3 separate regions of the Homo sapiens genome follow, and regions 2 and 3 are each linked to region 1. Evidence: fine-mapped expression QTL. A gene starts in region 1. Each other region holds a variant in brackets. All regions are shown on one strand. Distances are between the middles of the regions. Region 1 holds the start of BEX4 (brain expressed X-linked 4). Region 2 overlaps LL0XNC01-250H12.3 (a long non-coding RNA gene). Region 3 overlaps RAB40A (RAB40A, member RAS oncogene family).

What was found. PIP is the estimated chance that this variant, and not a neighbour inherited with it, causes the effect.
Region 2: its variant is the best candidate, but not a certain one, in a credible set for the expression of BEX4 in whole blood (TOPMed, PIP 0.51).
Region 3: its variant is the best candidate, but not a certain one, in a credible set for the expression of BEX4 in whole blood (TOPMed, PIP 0.56).

The regions. Positions count from the first base shown.
Region 1 is chrX:103,212,782-103,217,024 of GRCh38, forward strand. BEX4 (brain expressed X-linked 4) reads left to right here and starts at 2,327. Exons shown (of 3, transcript NM_001080425.4): 1 at 2,327-2,457; 2 at 2,901-2,983; 3 at 3,368-4,243. The coding sequence starts at 3,373. The coding sequence ends at 3,735.
Region 2 is chrX:103,489,181-103,493,423 of GRCh38, forward strand. All of the region lies in intron 5 of LL0XNC01-250H12.3 (a long non-coding RNA gene), which reads left to right. It also overlaps a transcript of RAB40A not described here. Among named protein-coding and RNA genes, the nearest start is that of RAB40A, 28 kb to the right of the region's middle. The variant C/T (reference allele first, on the strand shown) is at 2,301.
Region 3 is chrX:103,504,512-103,508,754 of GRCh38, forward strand. The region is part of intron 2 of RAB40A (RAB40A, member RAS oncogene family); the gene reads right to left. The region is part of intron 5 of LL0XNC01-250H12.3 (a long non-coding RNA gene); the gene reads left to right. Among named protein-coding and RNA genes, the nearest start is that of RAB40A, 13 kb to the right of the region's middle. The variant C/T (reference allele first, on the strand shown) is at 1,807.

The DNA.
Region 1 (4,243 bases):
CTGTGTGTGTTGGCTGATAACAACTTACATCTTTTTTCGGGAGGAGTGAGGGGACAAGGTCTCACTCTGTTGTCCAGGCTGGAGTGCAGTGGTGCTGTCATAGCTCACTGTAGCCTTGACCTCCCGGGCTCAAGCAATTCTCCCTCCTTAGCTTCTCAAGTAGGCGGGACCAAAGTTGCGTGCCACCACACCCAGCTAAATTTGTGTGTGTGTATGCGTGTGTGTGTGTGTGTGTGTGTGTGTGTGTGTATGGAGATGGGGTTCTCCCTATGTTGCCCAGGCTGGTCTCAAACTCCTGGGCTCAAGCAATCCTCCTACCTCAGCCCCCCAAATTGCTGGGATTACAGGCCTGAGCCATACAACTCACATTTTACCTCTTCTCCAGGGAATTGTTCTCTGCCAAATGGGAGCCACCTTGCTCCAGAGACTATGCTCTGCTCCACCTACAGACTTTGATCTGTGACTGACGCTGAGCTACAAAAAGCCAGTGACTTACTGTCAACGTGGGATGACTTGTGTGTGCTTCAGAGTTTTCAGGTGCGATTAACTAAACTTAATCTCTAGTTAAACCCCATTCTTCATCACTGCCCTGCTCCCCAGCCCTGTCCTGCTGCCTTTACTTCCTTTAACCTGAGAGAGCATTACAAGAAACTACATTCATAAGGATCTCTGTTCCAAGTTCTGCTTCTAGGGAGCCCGACCTAAAATAGGAAGGGTCTCTTTATAGAAATATTTCAGCTAAAATCCCAAAAAGAGGAAAACAGAAAGAGTCTTTGCTTTCCCTTGGACAAACTTGAATTGAAATTGAACCCAAATTCCAGGATGCTTTTCTAGAATTAGTTACCATCTTATAGGAACCACAGAGTAAAGAGATAATGTGTTAATGACACCACTGAGATCCAGACTGTAGGAAAATACAGAACAAATGACTATTTCATCAATAATTAAAGAAAAAATTAAAAAATGAAAACCCACAGATTAAAAGAAATTTAGGAAATTTGGCAACCAATCAAAATGCGCATATCTTATTTGTATCTTGATTCAAACAAACTGTTAAAAAAAACTATAATACAATTGGGTATTTGAACACAGATTAGACATAAAATGATATTAAGGAATTGTGAATTATTAAATGTGACAACAGTATTGTGGTTATATGCTAAAAAGAAGAAAACCCTTATCTTGTAGATACATACTTTGAAATATTTATGCCTAAAGTGATATTATGTCTAGAATTTGCTTCAGAAATAATTTTAAGGTTGGGAAGCGGGTAAGATAAAGACGAAATAAGATTGGCCATGAGTTGTTAACTGTGGAATCTGAGTGAGGACTAGTACATGGGGTTTGCATTATACTATTCCATTTTTCCAAATGTTCGAAATTTTCCATTAAAGTTAAGATAAAGTTAAACTATAAAGACTGTTTCTTAAACAAAAAAGGGGCCGGGCGCTCACGCCTGTAATCCCAGCACTTTGGGAGGCCGAGGCGGGCGGATCACGAGGTCAGGAAATCCAGACCATCCTGGCTAACACGGTGAAACCCCGTCTCTACTAAAAATACAAAAAATTAGCCGGGCGTGGTGGCGGGCGCCTGTAGTCCCAGCTACTCGGGAGGCTGAGGCAGGAGAATGGCGTGAGCCCGGGAGGCGGAGCTTGCAGTGAGCCGAGATCGCGCCACTGCACTCCAGCCTGGGCGACAGAGCGAGACTCTGCCCCACCCCCCAAAAAAAGGAACAGAACAGAAAGGTATTAAGAAGAATTAGAAAAAAAATCCACTGTCCTTGACTCATTTCCTGTCCCCCCCCAAACGTTCTGGTGTGGAGAAAAGGATGAGCATTGGTAACAAGTACCACAGTTTGCCATTGGGGTGGGCGGGACTGATGCTCTCTTTATTTAAATTTTTGACATCTTGCTCATCATAAATTTTCTTGCAATAATTGTTTTTTAAAATGTTGCATTAAAATGTTATTTTTCTTGACTGCTGAGGAATTTTGCACCCCTTTAAATTCTGCGCCCGCGTCCTGGTTGGGAGATGTGGGGAAAATCCTGGGAGCCCAGGACAGGGAGAGGCAAGTCCCCACAGAAGTGGGAATGGCCAACAGCTCCCTGAGAAGACAGCTTCCCTCTTGGGGAGGCAGAGGAAGTCCCAAGAATACACAAAGACAGGAGAGTGGAAGGGCCGGCCAGTCTGGAGATACTAAAAGAGACTCCGGATGAGGATAGGGGCTGACCCGAAAGCCCCGCCTGACTCCGGGCTGCAGGAGGGGGCGTGGGACGGGGGCGGAGCCGTTGGCGATGACAACAGCCCCACGTGACCGGCCAACACTGAGTGTTGTCTCGCTCTGGCGTCAGAGCCGTCGTGGCTCGTTCCATTCTCGGCGGTGGTACCTGCTCCCGGTGGCCCTGAGGACGTGTGGGCCAGGGGCGGCCCCGAAATTAGGAAGCGGAGGGGGAGCAGGTAAGGAACCCGGCGGGGGGTCCCTGGGGTTGGTGTGAGGGAGTGGCTCCGGCCTGCGGATGCCCACCCCGGGGGAGCCGTGCGGAGAAGCAATCGGTCCGCGATGCAGCCCCCGGGCCCCGCGGCGGGCCCGCGAGCCTTCCTTGAGCGGAGAGGTGCCCGGCCCGGAGGGAGCCGGCGGTCCTGGGGCTACGACCCTTCGGAAACACCTGCCTACGCCATCAGCGCAAGCTTTTCCGACACCCCTGCCCCGCACTTCTTGGTGCAGAAAATGGTGGTCAGCTTGCGGGGCGGGGCGGCTGAGGCGGGGGGCGAGGGTGGCGAGGAGGGCCAGGGCCAGGGCCAGGGCCAGGGCCTCGGGGCGGGGCGGGGGAGGGGCCGGATGGCGGTAGTTCCTAGCTAGCGTTCTGCTGCAGCAGCCCCCACTTCCCCCACCCCGGCAGTCTGCAGGTCTGCGGGGCTAAGTGTCGCGGCGGCGCACCTCGCGTCAAGAATCCGGAGGAGGAGACTGCAAGGATAGGCCCAGGTCGGTGCGAGGGTCGGTGGTGAGGCGGGGGCCGGAACGTGAGGAAAGCCCAGTCTGAGACCCTAATCCATGCCTTCACCCTCGCCCCCCTCTACCCCATGCAACCCTCCCCTTCCCACACGCCATCCTCGTCCTCCATTTTGCTGCCTGCGGAAGCCTGGAGATGGATCTACAGGGAAAATGGTGGGCTTTGCGGAAGGGAGGGGCTCGGATTGAGGGCACCCCACAGGGCATACTGGCTTCTCAGGTGGAAAAAAATGAAATGTTAGAGTATAAAGTCAAGTCCAGGGCTCTGAATTTTAAAAGGTGCCTAGTAGGGCCTCTGTCCTCAGTGCTTATCAGTCCACCAAGAATTCAGCCCATTTTCTCTCTCTTGTCTCCTAGGAGTAATGGAGTCCAAAGAGGAACTAGCGGCAAACAATCTCAACGGGGAAAATGCCCAACAAGAAAACGAAGGAGGGGAGCAGGCCCCCACGCAGAATGAAGAAGAATCCCGCCATTTGGGAGGGGGTGAAGGCCAGAAGCCTGGAGGAAATATCAGGCGGGGGCGAGTTAGGCGACTTGTCCCTAATTTTCGATGGGCCATACCTAATAGGCATATTGAGCACAATGAAGCGAGAGATGATGTAGAAAGGTTTGTAGGGCAGATGATGGAAATCAAGAGAAAGACTAGGGAACAGCAGATGAGGCACTATATGCGCTTCCAAACTCCTGAACCTGACAACCATTATGACTTTTGCCTCATACCTTGAATCCTAAAAGTTTTCGCTGAGGTTAATGTGAACACTGCTTTACAAGCTTGTATTTTTGTGATTTACTTTTTCTGTAAGCCTTTTGGGGTTTACACTTACCAGTTTCTAATGGAAATTAGAATTCTAATTGAATATTGTTTTGTCTCAGCCTAAAAGTTACGGTCAGCATGGCAATTCACCTATTTTAGGAAAAATACTCTTTTCATAATATGAAATGCATAAAGCAGTTCAAAAAGCAGTCTGTATTCCATCATCTTCCTTTTTCATTCCAGTCCTTATTTTTGTAAGTATTACTTTTCCTCCTCCGGCTACCTGGACTCAAAATCTCAGTTGTCTTTGACAGTTTTTTTCTTGTCCCTGACCAAAAAAGAATGATCATACCCAGAATTCAATGTTTGATATTTTAAGAATGTATGTTCTAGTGTTTTTCAGAGTGAGTCTACCATCTGTATAAAAACACCTTGGGGGCAGGCAGGGGCATTTAAAAATGTAGGACCTATCGTCCAGA
Region 2 (4,243 bases), 280 kb after region 1:
ATATATTTTAAAGCAGTTGCATTATGGTGCTCCAAGAATCTCATCGCATTCACTGATTTATCTTTTCCTTCCTCAGGGTAGGTTGAGGTGTCCACACTGTAGAGGGGTCCCTCCCTCCCAGAGAGCAGGCAGTTTGCCCTCCGTTACCCCACTCCTGTACAGGCTTCCCAGACCTTCTCCACCCACTTTCAGTCATCCCCTCTCTGGGACACTGTGGACACAGCCACCCAGACTCAGTTCCACCTCCCTCATCATTTCTTAGTCACCTTACGCCTGCCCCTGTGCTGTCCTATGCCAGCCGGTGGCTCCCAATGTGTGCTAGAGCTACCTGGTGTTTCATAGTATGGATGCCCCCAGAGTATATTTATTTAGTGTTCTTTTGCATCTGTCAGTTTTTTCAGACAGAAAATTTTGAAAATAGGTTCACAAGCTGTGTTTTAAGGGAGGTATGGTATTTCTTTTTTTTTTTTTTAATTTTTTTTTTATTAAAGTTTTAGGGTACATGTGCACAATGTGCAGGTTAGTTACATATGTATACATGTGCCATGCTGGTGCGCTGCACCCACTAACTCGTCATCTAGCATTAGGTATATCTCCCAATGCTATCCCTCCCCCCTCCCCCCACCCCACAACAGTCCCCAGAGTGTGATATTCCCCTTCCTGTGTCCATGTGATCTCACTGTTCAATTCCCACCTTTTTGCTCATTGTATATATTGCTTTGCAGTCTGATAATGGTGATATGTTAGTGCCCCCTCGTGACAGAAGCCTAAACTGCAGCTTGAACATCCGGGAGCAGGAAAGTGGGAGGAAGGGGTTGTGGCCCAAGCCCACCCCACAGAGCTTTCTATAAGTCTGGGTGGAACAGAAGTATATCCAGTGTTCAGGGATACTGATGGCCAAACAGAAAGTCCAGCCTCTTACTATGCTAAATAGAAAGCTATATTTGAGAGGAATAAAAAAAATCATTTTTATTTTTATGCTTTCAGACCTATGGATATATAGCAATAGACCTATACAAGCAAAAATAGATACAGAACTACTTCTGACTTTTGTGGGGTTTTTCTCGTCACCCAGGCTGGAGTGCAGTGGTGCAATCACAGCTCACTGCAACCTCTGCCTCCCAGGCTTGAGCGATCCTCCAGCCACAGCCTCCCAAGTAGCTGGGACTACAGGTGTGAGCCACCACCCCTAACGAATTTTTTTTTTTTTTTTTTGAGACGGAGTCTCACTGTCTCCCAGGCTGGAGTGCAGTGGCGCCATCTCGGTTCACTGCAAGCTCGGTCCCCCGGGTTCACGCCATTCTCCTGCCTCAGCCTCCGGAGTAGCTGGGACTACAGGCGCCTACCACCACGCCCGGCTAATTTTTTGTGTGTGTATTTTTAGTAGAGACAGGGTTTCACCGTGTTCGCCAGGATGGTCTCAATCTCCTGACCTCGTGATCTGCCCGCCTCGGCCTCCCAAAGTGCTGGAATTACAGGCGTGAGCCACCGCGCCCGGCCACCCCTGACTAATTTTTATATTTTTTGTAGAGACAGGATTTCACCATGTTACCCAAACTGGTCTCGAAATCCTGAGCTCAAGGGATCCGCTCACCTCCGTCTTCCAAAGTGCTGGGATTACAGATGTCAGCCACTGCACCCGGCCATACTACTTAGGACTTTTGTAACCTGTGTTTGCCTTTACTATGACCATCTTTCAAATTCAATTTCAATTTTTTGTATAGAGTTGGTGTTTCATCATATGATGCCCTAAACTTTATTTTCCCAGTACTCTAGTGGTGAAAATTTAATTCCTTTTAATATAGTTTCTATTACAGACAATAGTATACTTAACACCAGCTTTTATATATGCAGATATCTTTTAAAGCATTTCTTTATAAGCTCCTGAAGAGTCCTTTCAAAACCCTGGAAATTAGAACATTTTATATTAACATAATGGTTCAAAATACTACTACTAATTTACATTCCTAATGTAACCACAGAACCGTTCAATATGCTTTGACTTTGTAACAAAGTGATGAGTTGTTTTTTAGATGCAGTGGATCCCCAGGTTGCAAGTCATATAACCTGAGCATGCCCAGATGAACCAAGTATGCCTGATTGGTGAACCTGGAACTGGCCAGAACAGAAAATGTCAACCACATGTGGAATCTAAGTATTCAGATTGAGAAATGAGGACCAAAATGAGAAGTGAGTGGTTCCCTGTTTTTTTCCCAGTACAAACTTAAAAGCCAAGGACTTGGCACCACTTCTTTGCATGATCCAATCAGATCATGCCTGGTTGCATTTCCCTATGTCCC[C/T]CATAGTTACTCTCTGCCTTCAGACCCCAGCTCGAGGAAACAGATTTGAGTGTTGCTGGTCCTGTCTCCTTGCTGGTCGACCTTGCAATAAAGCTTTTTCTTTCCTCAAAAGCTAGTGCCATAGTATTGGCTTCTATGTGCATTGGTGACCAAGCCCATTGCTCAGTAACACTAACATCACAGTATGAAAGTGCCTGTTTCTACACACATTGAAATAATGGGCATGGTAGCTAATCTGATAGGCAAAAAATTCTCTCTCATCATTGTCTTCATTGTAACTCATTTTATTGCTTACCTACAATTTCATGCTGTGGATGTAACATAATTTTCAGAACTCCATGTTATTCAGAGTGTTCTGATACTCCCTAATGTCAACACTGTGTCGATGGCATCTTTTCAAAGTATGTGCTCCGCTGAAGGGCACAGTTCCGGGCACAGTTCCTGTGGCTGTTTGGACTGGTGAGCCAAATGTGTCCTCTTGGAACTCACCAAACTGTCATAGAAGAATACTAGTATTGTGATAAAAAGAGCCTGGTCCATGTATAAATGTGTGTGTGTGTGTGTGTGTGATTGTGTATGTGCTGGCGTGATTGTGTGTGTGATGACAACCACATTTTCCTCTGCTTCCTTCTTTTCCTTCATGGCTTTGCATCTCATTTGGTCTCCCTTCCTAAATTCAGGCTGAGAACAAAAGTTCTCTGAAAAGGAATTTAGAGGAAAGAGACTTTATTCCAGTGAATAGTTTGCAAATCGGGGAGATGTAGCCTTCAGTATAAAATGAAGGTGTGTTCCAGAGGACAAAGGGAAGGTTTGTCTTTTATGAAGAAAATTCTCACCCAGGTTCCCACTCAGGTCAACTTATGCAAATGAAGGATTCCAACTTGCTTAGTTCTGATTGGTTGACATAGGTGAAAGCTTATTGGTTGGTTCAAGCACCATAAAAAGGAACAGGCAGCTATGAAAGTCCCAAAGTTAAGCAGACTTTCAGGTTTTCTGGGAACTCGAAGTCATGTGTGACCTCTACTCAGCAAATGGCCACTTGGCTCTAATTTGAATTTAGGCCCAGTTAAACACCCAGGATTTATCTTGAAGGACTGGTTCTTTCAGGCTTCACAAGGCCCAGAAGTAAAGGAAGGGAATTATCAGAATAGCAGTTCTTTTTACCATATCCTTATCCACATCCTTCCTTACATTCTGAAGATAAACTTGTTCAAGGGAAATTGTTTGTGCAAACAGTGTGTCCATATGTAGGTTTTTGATAAATATTGCCACACTGACACTCATCAAGGTAGTGCTATTTAGACTCCCTAAGTGAAGTCATGCAAGAAAACACACAGGGGAGTGAAGAAAGTAATAGTAATGACATCCTGTTAGACAGTAAATGCCCTATACTTTGTTGTAGACCTACTCTCAAGCCATTGCCACAGTTGGAACATGTGGAAGTGATCAGATGAAAATCAAACTTTACACCCGAGTAAAACCCGAAGTAACATGTGGGATAGTGTTAGGAGGGGAAAATCCTTGGAGGAACATATGACAAAGAGTCAGCAGGGCTGGGATACAGCTACCGTTTTACATGCATTCACATTTATATAAAAGATGTACATCACAGCCTTTGTATGAAAAAGTTTGGTCACTACTGTGGTACAACAGAAGACCAGGGCAATATCATATTTTTAAACGGCTTTCTTGTAGTATAATTTATGGACAATAAAATGCATGCTTTTGAAGATAGAATTTTGTGATTTTTAGTAAATGTATAGAGTTGTGCAATGATCTTCATAATTGAGGGTTTTAAAATCTTTTATTTTTAATTTTTGTGGGTACATAATAGGCATATATATTTTTGGGGATACATGAGATTTTGGTACAGGTAGGGAATGTGTAATAATCACATCATTAAAAATTAGGTATCCATCCCCTCAAGCATTTATCCTTTGTGT
Region 3 (4,243 bases), 290 kb after region 1:
TATATTTTTATTTTATTTTATTTTATTTTTTGGACAGTCTTGCTCTGACGCCCAGGCTGGAGTGCAGTGGTACAATCTCAGCTCACTGCAACCTCCGCCTCCCAGGTTCAAGCGATTCTCGTGCCTCAGCGTACTGAGTACCTGGGATTATAGGCATGCGCCACCACACCCGACTAATTATTATATTTTTAGTAGAGATGGGGTTTCACCATGTTGGCCAGGCTGGTCTTGAACTCCTGGCCTCATGAGATCCACCCGCCTCAGCCTCCCAAAGTGCTGGGATTCCAGGCGTGAGCCACCACACCCAGCTAGGCATTAGAATTTAACTTCATTGCCTTGAATATTTTAATTAATGTTTTATATTTAATCTTAAAGAAGGGGAAATTTTTATATCATTGAAGAGACACTTATGTTTACAAGAACTTTTAATAATAAAAGCAGAATTTACTAGTAAAAAAGGGAAAGAAATAGAACATTATCTTCACTTCAGGAGCTTCCTTTATGCCCTTACAAGTCATTATACCTCCAAAAGTAAACTACATTAACTTCTAACACTAGAGATTTGCCTGTTTACGAACTTTTCATATTTTATTTACCTGAAATTATACTTTTTTGTTTCTGCTTTGTTTTGCTTAATATTATCCTTGTGAGATATATCCATGATTTTGCATATGGCAACATTAAAATGAGCATTCTAATTGTGGTAGAGTATTTCATTTTATGAATACTACAAGTTATCTGTTGGATGATATTTGGGTTATGCCCACAGTTTGACTAATGTTATAGTACTACTACATACAGTTTTGTGCCTGTCTTTAGTGGGTATATGTACACGATTCTGTTGAGTATATCAAAGATTGGAATTGCTGGCTCATAGGTATGCATATAGTTAGCTTTAGCAGATATTGCCAAATGATTTCCCAAACTGTTCTCACCAATTTACTTTCAGTAATAGTATATAATGGTTCTATTTGCCCCTTACTCTTTTTTTTAGTCCATGGGGTTACTGTAGTATCTCATGACAATTTTAATTTGCATTGTCCTAAAAACTAAAAACGTTAAGCGCCTTTTTATACGTGCAGCTGTCGTATGGGATTCTTATATTGTAAAATGCCTGTTTACTTCTTTTGCTCATTTTCTACTTTTCTCCTTGTTTCCAAAAAATTGAATCACTGTATATATAAAATCTTTCACTCTGTATTTCAATATTTTCTTTCTTAAGAGTATGTTTTGAAAGACAATCTTTAATTATAATGTAGCTCAATTTATTATTATTTTTTCCTTTGGGATTAACAGTTTTTTGTCTAGTGATTATTTGCCACCCCAACTACATAAAAATATTTTCCTCCATTGTTATAGGTTATTCTTTTACTTTTGCATTTAGACTGACAATCTACCTGAAATCAATTCTTGTACGTATCTAATTTAGGTAGCATACTTAAAATATCATCCTTCTCCCTTCACTGCACTGTCACCTGTGTCATAAGTGAAAATGACCACATATGGATTGGGTCTATTTCTTGACTCTATTAATAAAGTCCATTGGCCTGTTGTTTCTATCCTTACACCAATTCTACATTCTCTTAATTACAATAGCTTGTTTCTTTAGATCTCAATTAAAAAAATTTTTAATAGCTTCAGGAGTACAAGTGGTTTTAGTTATAAGGATCAATTTTATAGTGGTGAAGTCTGGACTTTCAGTGTACCCTTCACCCAAATAGTTTACATTGTACCCAGTAGGTGATTTTTCATCCCTTACTCCCTTCCCTCCCTTACTCCCACCTCCCCCTTCTGAGTTTCCAGTGT[C/T]CATTATTAATTATAATAGCTTTATATTTTAATCTTAGTTTGTAATATAATGTTTAAACTTTGTCTTTTTTCACAAAGGTTTTAAAAAACTGACATGCTTTTAAAAAAATATATGATTTAAGTCCTTGGGGAATAAAATTTAAATCCAAACAGATCTATTTAAAACATAATCCAACATATTTTACGACAAATGAATAGATCATTGCCAATTCTTTACTTGCCAGTTAAATTTTTAAAAACCCTAAACTCCTTACTTAAAGTATCTTGTGTGTTCAAATATTCACTAAAATACTTTTATTCTCAAATATGAAACTTCAAAAACTATACAAGAGTATATTCACAAATCAAATTTAAACTGCACCTCTCACTGGCCCAACTCCCATCCCTTGACCCCAAGGGGTCTGTTGTCCCTAGAATAGTGCACACTCTCCAGATGTGCCCCTGTAGGTGAGGTGCACATCAACACATTCACCTTCACACACAGTCTTCTCCAAAAGTACAATCATAGTCCTCATTTTTTGCATCTTGTCATTATAAATTCTCAGGATTTAAAAATATTTGCATCTTGTTAGTTCTTGTGGTTTTTGTAATTTTTTTTAATTTTATTTCTTCTAAAAAAATGGGATACATGTGCAGAACGTGCAGGTTTGTTACATAGGTATACGTGTGCCACGGTGGTTTGCTGCACCTATTGACCCATCCTCTAAGTTCCCTCCCCTCACCCCCCACCCCCCAACAAGCCCCGGTGTGTGATGTTCCTCTCTCTGTCCATGTGTTCTCAGTGTTCAGCTCCCACTTATGAGTGAGAACATGTGGTGTTTGGTTTTCTGTTCCTGTGTTAGTTTGCTGAGGATGATGGCTTCCAGCTTCATCCATGTCCCTGGAAAGGACATAATCTCATTCCTTTTTATGGCTGCAGGTTTTTGTATTTTTTAATGTTTATTGTTCATGTATTTACTTATTTAAATTTTCTGTTCAAATCATTGCCAATTGTTTTGTTACCAAGTATGTTTCACAAATCACAGCTACTAACCCAGTATCTGAGATGTAGTTTACATATGTTTTCTCCCTTGTTTTAATACAGTCTTTAGTGGTTTTTTTTCCTTTGGAAAGTGTTTTAAATTTTATTAATGGGACCTAAACATTATACAGGTCATATTTAAAAGGAAAAAACATTAAAAAACACCTGCGGAGTAGATACTGCCAGCGTTGAAGGAGATTAGAGCACTCAGAGTTATGGAGGCATCAAGACAAAATGAAAATAACAACTGAAAAAAAACCCTTAAGTAATTCCAAAGTTAACTGCTGATCAGGAGATTAAAAAGTTTTCTCTCTAAATTACATAAACTGTCCTTAAACTTAGTTTCCTGATTTGAATAATTATCAGAATGATGGGTTAAATGGTTGTTAGGGTAAAAGCAGATGAAATATAGAGTGCATTTGCTTACAGTAGTTCAGGGCATGTTACTTGCCTTCTCTCCAGTTCACCTGTCCCAAGGCCAACACCTGAGCTTCTGCCTCAGTCCACTCACCACAAATCAAATTTAAACTGCACCTCTCACTGGCCCAGCTCCCACCCCTTGACCCCAAGGAGTCTGTCATCCCTAGAATAGTACACACTCAGGTCTGCAGGTTTTTGTATTTTTTAATGTTTATTGTTCATGTATATACTTATTTGAATTTTCTGTTAAAATCATTGCCAATTGCTTTGTTACCAAGTATGTTTCACAAATCAGGGATACTAACCCAATATCTGAGATGTAGTTTACAAATGTTTTCTTCTTTGTTTTAATACAGCCCTTAGTGGGGTTTTTACACACTAGGTCTACACCCAGGTCTCTTGGCACAAAGCACAGGATTTCACCTCCTCTGTCTTCCTCATCACCCAGAGGGGTTGTAGAGTAAGGACCTGTGGGGCCACAATAGCAGGGGAGTGGAATCTGACCATTTCTCAAGCCCTGGAAGCCCATCTTCTAAAGGGGAGGTGCTCAGGGTCTCCTAGGGAGGGTGAAGGATGGGACCTCATTCCAATCCTGCCACTTACCTGGGGAGGTGACTTAGGCTCTGAAAGCCTGAGGTTGGTCATCTGTGAAATGGGACTGACCATACCATTCTTACTGAGCTGTATGAGGGGTTAATGAGAAAACTTTCCCAGAGAATATGACATGAAGTGGGACTTCAATGGTCCTTTAAATGTTGGAACACAGCAGTAGGGGCTGGCTGAGCCTCAGGGCTTAGGTAGTCATTATGAAAAATCATTTCTCATTGTTTCTCCAGACGAGAACACAGACATCCAGATAAAAGAAGCAAATCTCTCTCATATGCCTTCAGTTCAAAGTTTTAGAAACAGAATGTTCTCTACATTCTTTAGTGTTTCATAATTCATAAATACTGTTCAATATCATGCCTGTAAGCAGACCCAAATCCACTTCCCCAT